Homo sapiens: one gene and its partner. The protein of the gene in region 2 purifies or fractionates together with the protein of the main gene of each other region. This does not show direct contact. Each region holds a gene or a part of one and is shown on either strand. Other genes may lie near its edges.

Region 1 (3,814 bases), on a different chromosome or scaffold from region 2:
TTTAAAGACGGGTTGAGTCATATATAGTAATTTGGTGATTTATTATGATATTTAACAAAATAAGTTAAAATTTCGATCAGTTGACAACATCCTTGTGGGAAGAAGAGATGGAAATAATGACATTAGTATATAAAGCTCAGATTTGGAAATTTATTCAGACTCTACTGAATAGCTGTGTACTTGTTTTTTATTTCCTCTTCATTTACCTGTGAGTGATAAGTCTATATTTTTCTCTCCCTTTCTAGTTATGTTGGATATTTTAAGTTATCAATTTTTGTTTGTTTGTTTGGGAGCCCAAAGAGTGGTAATTACTTAACCAGTCTTTGCTTCAGTTTCCTTACCTTTAAAATAATACTATTAGGAATGTGTTAATACATTTATAAACCTGAAAGGAATGCAGATGCCTACTACTGCTAACTATCTTTCCACCCTCTTCCTTTCTTTATGTTAAAACCTCCCTCTTTTTTGTCTAAACCTGCCTCCTAAGAATTTCCCGATCTAGTGGAATTGCAGAAAGACATTTTAAGTGTCTATTGAATTTTTCACTGGTTAACTTTGTCAGTTTTTTAAAACTTAATGGTTCTGACATTTAAATGATTAATGACGTTACTTTAGTCTTAGGAAAGCTGGTTCTAAACGTTTGCATAATATAGCTAGCTACTCTACTCCTTTTTAGTATTCCCACCTCTTTTTATATACTAGATTACTTGTCATCAGTAAATGTAATGCGTAGTTTATTTCTACGTGATGTAATTTTTTTCTCTTGTTACACAGGCTGCTTTTGTCAGAGACGTTTTATTACCGGGAGAATGGGATGTATGTGTAACATCTTATGAAATGCTTATTAAAGAGAAGTCTGTGTTCAAAAAATTTAATTGGAGATACTTAGTAATAGATGAAGCTCACAGGATCAAAAATGAAAAATCTAAGGTAATTTGATACTTAGATGTGAAAAGCCTTCATGTAAGAATTTGATTAAAGTACAGATTTTTTTTTCTTTTAACTTTAAGTTATGAGATACATGTGCAGAACGTGCAGGTTTGTTAACATAGGTATGCATGTGCCATGGTGGTTTGCTGCACCCCATCATCTAGGTTTTAAGCCCCGCATGCATTAGGTATTTGTCCTAATGCTCTCCCTCTGCTTTCTCCCCACTCCCCGACAGGTCCTGGCATGTGGTGTTCCCCTCCCTGTGTCCATGTGTTCTCATTGTTCAACTCCCACTTATGAGTGAGAACATGTAGTGTTTGGTTTTCTGTTCCTGTGTTAGTTTACTGAGAATGATGGCTTCCAGCTTCATCCATGTCCTTGCAGAGGATATAAACTCATTCTCTTTTATGGCTGCGTACTATTCGCTGATGTATATGTGCCATATTTTCTTTAACCGGTCTATCATTGTTGGGCATTTGTGTTGGTTCCAGGTCTTTGCTGTTGTAGATAATGCAATATGCAGAATATTCTAATGGTGTATTTGGTTCTTTTCTTTCAGTTGTCAGAAATAGTGAGGGAATTCAAGACTACAAATAGACTATTATTAACTGGAACACCTCTTCAGAACAACTTGCATGAGCTGTGGTCACTTCTTAACTTTCTGTTGCCAGATGTGTTTAATTCAGCAGATGTAAGTATTTCCTGGTGCTTTCTGGTTAATAATAATATTTTGCTTAATGCTATATATTTTTGTAATAAAAGTGGCCTGCCTTTTAGCATGGCTTGAGGTTATTATTAATTTTTTATGCTTTTATTTACATAGTTAGCCTGGTGTTATCTCCTAGGTTGTCTCTGTATAATGGGAATTTACTTTTGTGCCTTTGGTTTCAATCTTATTTCATTATTATTATTATTATTTTATTTTTTTTGAGACGTAGTCTCACTCTGTCACCTATGCTGAAGTGCAGTGGTGTGATCTTGGCTCACTGCAGCCTCCACCTCCGGAATTCAGGTGATTCTTGTGCCTCAGCCTTCCGAATAGCTGAGATCACAGGTGTGTGCCACCATGCCCGGCTAGTTTCTGTGTTTTTTGTAGAGATGAGGTTTTGCCATGTTGTCCAGGCTGGTCTCAAGCTCCTGGCCTCAAGCGATCTGCCTGCCTCAGCCTCCCAAAGTGCTGGGATTACAGGCACGAGCCACCACACCAGGCCTCAGTCTTCTTTAAATCATTGTTTTCTCTATCTGAAATGGCATAAATTGTCACTCCTATTTGGTAAGTCAGGTTGGCCTGACTTTGTTTCAGTGGCTCTAGGTTGACTGGTTATGTTTTTAAGGTGCTGCTCAAGGTATTCCTGAAGTGATTTGTATACCTCACATTGCTTATGTTTTAAGTCCCAAGGATGACTGTCAAATTTAGTGAAATCTGTCTGGCTTTTCTTATATTATAGTCTAACAAACAAATAGAACCTAATCTTTATGGATTATTTATAGTCATAGAAAGGATAGTAATGGTTAATTAGCTATTTGAACTGTTAATAGTAATATAATAACTATGTCAAGAGTTTGTGCTATTAGAAATTGCAGTTTTTTTTGCCTGGACCAGTGTTTATTTTTGAAGCTTTGTTTGCATAGCTGGCGTCTTATGTGTATTGGAGGGATTTGAAGAGCTCCATGTTAGTATATTTTTGTACAATTAAGTTATAAAAAGGTATTAATTAATTTTGTTTTTTTTCTGTTGAAGATTGTTTTGAAAGAATAGATTGTGTTGTAAAAAGATATTTAATCAGACTCCAAAAGCAATTTTAGCTTCGATTTTATGTATTTTGATGTTTTTGAGATAATTCCTGTTTCTCACTACATTGACACTTTCATTTACTTTAAAGCAGTGAATTCTAAGATTATGTTTACTCAAAAACAAAGCACATATATAATACATATGTTCAAGAGATGAGGTTAGGGAAACTGCCCTTGTTGAAATCGTAACCAAATATTAATGAAATGCTGGTAATTTCAATTTCATTTAGTAAGTTTGATTAAAATTGACATTGTTCGTAAACTTGTATTTGAGTAGTGCGAATGGTCTCAGAGAACAAACTATAAAATGTTTTAATTTTCAAGCTTTTATGAAACTTGAAAGATACTTTACAAGAATATTAATTTTCTAATCCTATAGAACTTGCTCTCCAACTTTTTACTGTGAAACTTGTTATTTTGATGTTTTTGAGAAGAATGTTTAGAAGGTAGTGTGATTTCTGAACTACTTGTTTTAAAATTAGTAACAATGACACATGAAAACCAGGATTGGACTAAGTGATTTTTTTTTGTGGGTTACAATTCAAATTACTAATTCTAGAAATCATTTCTATATCTGGTATTATAGGGTATTTGTTAATATTATCTCTGATCTGAGTATATTTTTTGTTTGTTTATCTAGGACTTTGATTCCTGGTTTGATACAAACAACTGCCTTGGGGATCAAAAACTAGTTGAGAGGCTTCATATGGTAAGTATTTTGGAGTAGTGTTAAAGCATATTTATGATGGGAAAAAGGATAAAGGTTTAAATTAGTAGATTATTTTCCTGTTAATAAAAAACACAATGGCTTAAGAATCAGATCTGCTTGAATTCTGACACTTAACTCTTACATCTTACAATCAGTGTAGGGGGTGATGTGTGGTTGTTTCAGTGTTAGAACCTAGAATGGAATCCTGACTTAAGGGAGAAAGTATTCTCTTACAGTTATACAAAATACAGTGGGGGGAAGAAGAATTGCATAATAATTAATATAGACAAGTTTTTGTTGTTGTTTTTGAGACAGTCTCACTTTGTCGTCCAGGCTGGAGTGCAGTGGCATGATCTTGGCTCACTGAAACCTCTGCCTCCC
Region 2 (3,814 bases):
GATGCCCCTCTTCCAGGAAGCCTTCCAGAAAGAGCTCTGCTCCCCACCCAGGGTTCCCTAAGCCACACCCATCTCTCTGTCTCAGCCCTAACCACCCAGGCTGTAGGTCTTTTCACGATTGGCAAGGGACAGCTATGTCCTCAGCATCTCTGGGCATGGGGAGGGCATTTGTGATGGCTTTCCAGGGAGTGAGGGTGCAGACTGGAGTGGCCCAGGCAGGGTTGGGGTCAGGAGGGCAACGGGAAGGAGACCCCCCAAGTGCTTGGGGAGTGAGGTGGGTGGCCGGGCTGGGCTGGGCCAGGCCTGCTCTCTGCCTCTCCTCTGCTTTCTTTTCCTCCTTAGCACTGGTCACAACCTTCCTGGCTATGCCTGCCTAATCGTGTTAGGAACCTACGTCTTACTAATCATATTATGCTCATGATCTGTCTCCCCTAGAGAAGGTCAGTACCACAAGGGCTGGGCTTGGGGGGTTTTTGCTCACAGCGGTATTCCCAGTGCCTTCTCCAGTGCAATTTCTCGGTGCCTGTTTGTAGAGTCAATGAATGGATGCACGTGTGCATGAGCAAAGGGGTCCAGGCCCCCAGGAGGTACAGTCAAAATTGGGGCCCCCTAGATCCAGGGATTAGAGAAAACAGGGACCCCAGGATGGGAGCCTGGAATAAAAATCCTAAAGTCACATGGGCCACCAGAGCGGGAGCAGCCCCCATTTAAGAGCCAGGCCCTGGCCGGGGGCCCTCAGACCTTTGTTCACTGAATGAGTAAGGGAGGGGTCCTTTCTCCCCGAGGCTCCTTCGTGGCCACTCTGGCCACAGCAGGGCTACCTCTCCAGCCTCACCCACCCTCCCACCCACCCGCCTCTGGCTGTCTCCACCTCTCTGTCACTGGAGCTGCACTCACCCAGGCTGAAGAGGATGATGAACTTGAGGCAGACAAACTCCTGCCGGTCCAGCTGCAGCGCAAGCAGCTGCAGCACCAGCTCCTGCGCCCGCAACACCAGGCTGTGCAGCAGCGAGCCCGCCTGGGTGGCCACTGTGGTCAGCTCCACCTGGGGGCAGAGGGCACGGGGCGGGGGACAGTCAGAGGACGTGGGTCCGGGCAGGTGGCTCTCTGATGGGGGATGCAGGGCTGAGGGCATGGATTGGAGGTGCAGGTCAGATGGGCTGGCGTCAGGAGGGCCCAGCCTTGGTGCCGAGCCAGGCACGGGTAACATCTGCACAGCCCCGGGGACGCTGCCGGGCCCACCCTTCCGAGCTCTCCTCAACCCGCCAAGCCCGGAGCTGAGGCACCCACGTTCTGCCCGCGTCCACCCCTCCTTCACACACAAACCCCAGCACCAGGCCCAGCAGCACCAGCAGCTCAGGGGGCCCCTCTACATGCTGGGAGGGGAGGGGTTGGGGAGGGCAGGCCTGTGTGGGGACACACAGACACATCCACATGGCTTCCCAGAGCCCCCATGTTCACACCTACACGCTGGGTCACAGCTCAGCTCAGAGTCACACACACACACACACGAGCACAGTCATGGGGTCGCCCACTCTGTGAAGTGAAGGCACACACGTGTGCACACGGCCACACCCGCCCTTGTACGCTCACACTCACGGCAACACATACACCCATGTATGTGATCACATTTACGGGTTGATGGGAAGACAGTGACACCCACACACTGATGTGTGTGGAGATTTTGCACAATAAAACACAGGCAGGCACACACACACACACACACAAACAGGCATTCCCATGGCCACAGAGACTCAGCCAGCCTGCGGACACCCACACTTCATGCAGACTGCAGGCACCTGCGCTCACAGGGAGCCCCAAAGACACCCCCCTGGGACCAGTGCTGCCCGTCCCGTCCTCCTGCCCCGATGGCCTGTGACACCGAGGAGAGAGCTGGAGATGAGCAGTGGGGGCCTGGGAGGGCTGGAGCTGGGAGCAGAGTCTGTCTTCCCCACCCCACAGCACCCACCGACCCCACGGCCCTTCCTGTGTCCCCACCTGAGAGTGGCACTCCTGCCAGCAGGCTGGACCCTGGCCATCAACCCCCTTCTCTGCCTCCCCCCCTCCCTCTCTTTCCCTACAGCCCATCTCTCCAGGTGAGTCTTCCTCCGTGGCTGTGCCCCCGTGTCCCCACCCTGGCCCCCCACCTCCCATCCTGACCCCTCCGCCTGCCTCCTCAGATACCACCTGGCCATGTCCCTCCTCCTCCTAAAGCTCTCCCCGGACCCCTGCTGCATCTGGACTTTCTACTCCCCAGATCCTCATTCCCTGCTCTAAGGGGGCCCAAATTCCGACTCTGAGCTCTCTGGAGCCCTTTGCCCATTCATTCATTCATTCATTCATTCGAGATTTAGGGCCTGCAAGGTTTGCCTGCTAAGCCAGCACTAGCAACCCCCTAGCCTCCCTCATCTCTCACCTCATGCCACCCCCACACCGGCACCAGCAGGGCCCGGGGGCTCCACACTTCCACCCTCTCTGAGCCTGCGGTAGACGTGGGGACTGCCCCCCTCATCCCTCATTCCCCAGCCAACTCCAGTGTGTTATTTCCAGACCCAGGGCCACCATCACCTCCTCCTCCATGAGCCTCTCCTCACCATGCCCACACCCCCTGAGCTGCTCCCCAAGAGCAGGGCTCCCAGGGGCCGGCGCCTCTCAAGCCTGGGCCAGGGCTGCTCACAGAGGGTTTGGGCCAGTGGGTGTTCCATGAACGTGGGGAAAGGGCTGATAATTAGGGTGCCCAGAGCCAGCCCCGAGAGGCCTGGGTCCTCCTCTCCGGGGCCCTGAATCCTGGAAGTGCACAGCGGGGCCAGGGCGGGGCCCAGGGGCGGGGCCGAGGGACTGGTCACCTCCTGCCCGGTGACCAGCAGGATGCTGCCCTCCTTGCCGTGCTGGACCTGGCGGTAGATGTGGTCGAACACCAGCAGCTCGCTCCAGCAGTTCTGCAGCAGCGTCATCTGGTCGGCCACCTGGAAGGAAGAGGCACGCGGGGGGCCGGGCTCCAGCCAGGGTCCAGGGACCTTCCTCTCACCCCTTCTCCTCCCACTGAGACCCAACTAGGCGTGCAGCCTGGGCAAGCTAACCTCTCTGTGCCCATCTACCCAGATGTCTAGGCTATCAAAGTGCAACAGAGGTCTGGCCAGTTAACAAAGGGATGTTTGGGGGTTGAATGGGCCAGGCTTCAGGCCCCACCTCTGTCTTTTGTATGACTTTACGTAAGTCCTGGTAACCTTTCTGTGCCTCAGTTTTCTCATCTGTAAAGTGGGCAAAGTACTGAGCGGACAGTCCAGTACATGTTAGGTATGCCATACATGTTAGTGACTAATGTCCATGCAGGTGCTCTGCAAAGGACTCCTACAAATGCCTGGCAAGGTTATTATTAATTTTAACCTTGTCCACATTTAAAAGCCTGTGGTCGGTCACACCTCTGGCAGCCCCAACTGCTCAAACAGGAGCCATGAGGGAGAAACCAAGGGCTTCCCCCCCGGGCCTACGCAGAGCTCTCAGGCTCAGGAGGAGGAGGGAGGTCCCACCTGGCCTGAGGTCAGGCCCAGGGCATGAGCAGGGGGGCGGCAATGGCCTGGCACATGAAGCAGAAACGAACAGCAACAAGGGGCTGATTCCGAATGCCCAGGCTGCGGCCAGAGACACTCGGTGCAGGGGCAGGGCCAGCCCCTGTTTGGAGTGTCCTTTGACTCTGCAGGACTCAGAAGCAGAGCCAGGGATCCCCTGGCCCCAATCCCTATTTTTCAGCTGAGGAATCCGCCACCCGGAAAGGGCAAGAGACTCTCCCGGGATCACACAGAGGCAGGGCCAG

Evidence for each region.
Region 1: the proteins of NR5A1 (region 2) and SMARCA5 purify together in Homo sapiens (co-immunoprecipitation; one study listed by IntAct). This does not show direct contact.

What each region holds. Positions count from the first base shown.
Region 1 is NC_000004.12:143,527,094-143,530,907, forward strand, and holds part of SMARCA5 (SWI/SNF-related matrix-associated actin-dependent regulator of chromatin subfamily A member 5), read left to right. Parts: intron 1-774; coding exon 775-930; intron 931-1,489; coding exon 1,490-1,621; intron 1,622-3,364; coding exon 3,365-3,433; intron 3,434-3,814. UniProt on the Homo sapiens protein: ATPase that possesses intrinsic ATP-dependent nucleosome-remodeling activity.
Region 2 is NC_000009.12:124,490,184-124,493,997, forward strand, and holds part of NR5A1 (steroidogenic factor 1), read right to left. Parts: intron 2,967-3,814; coding exon 2,847-2,966; intron 1,046-2,846; coding exon 898-1,045; intron 1-897. UniProt on the Homo sapiens protein: Transcriptional activator. Essential for sexual differentiation and formation of the primary steroidogenic tissues. Binds to the Ad4 site found in the promoter region of steroidogenic P450 genes such as CYP11A, CYP11B and CYP21B.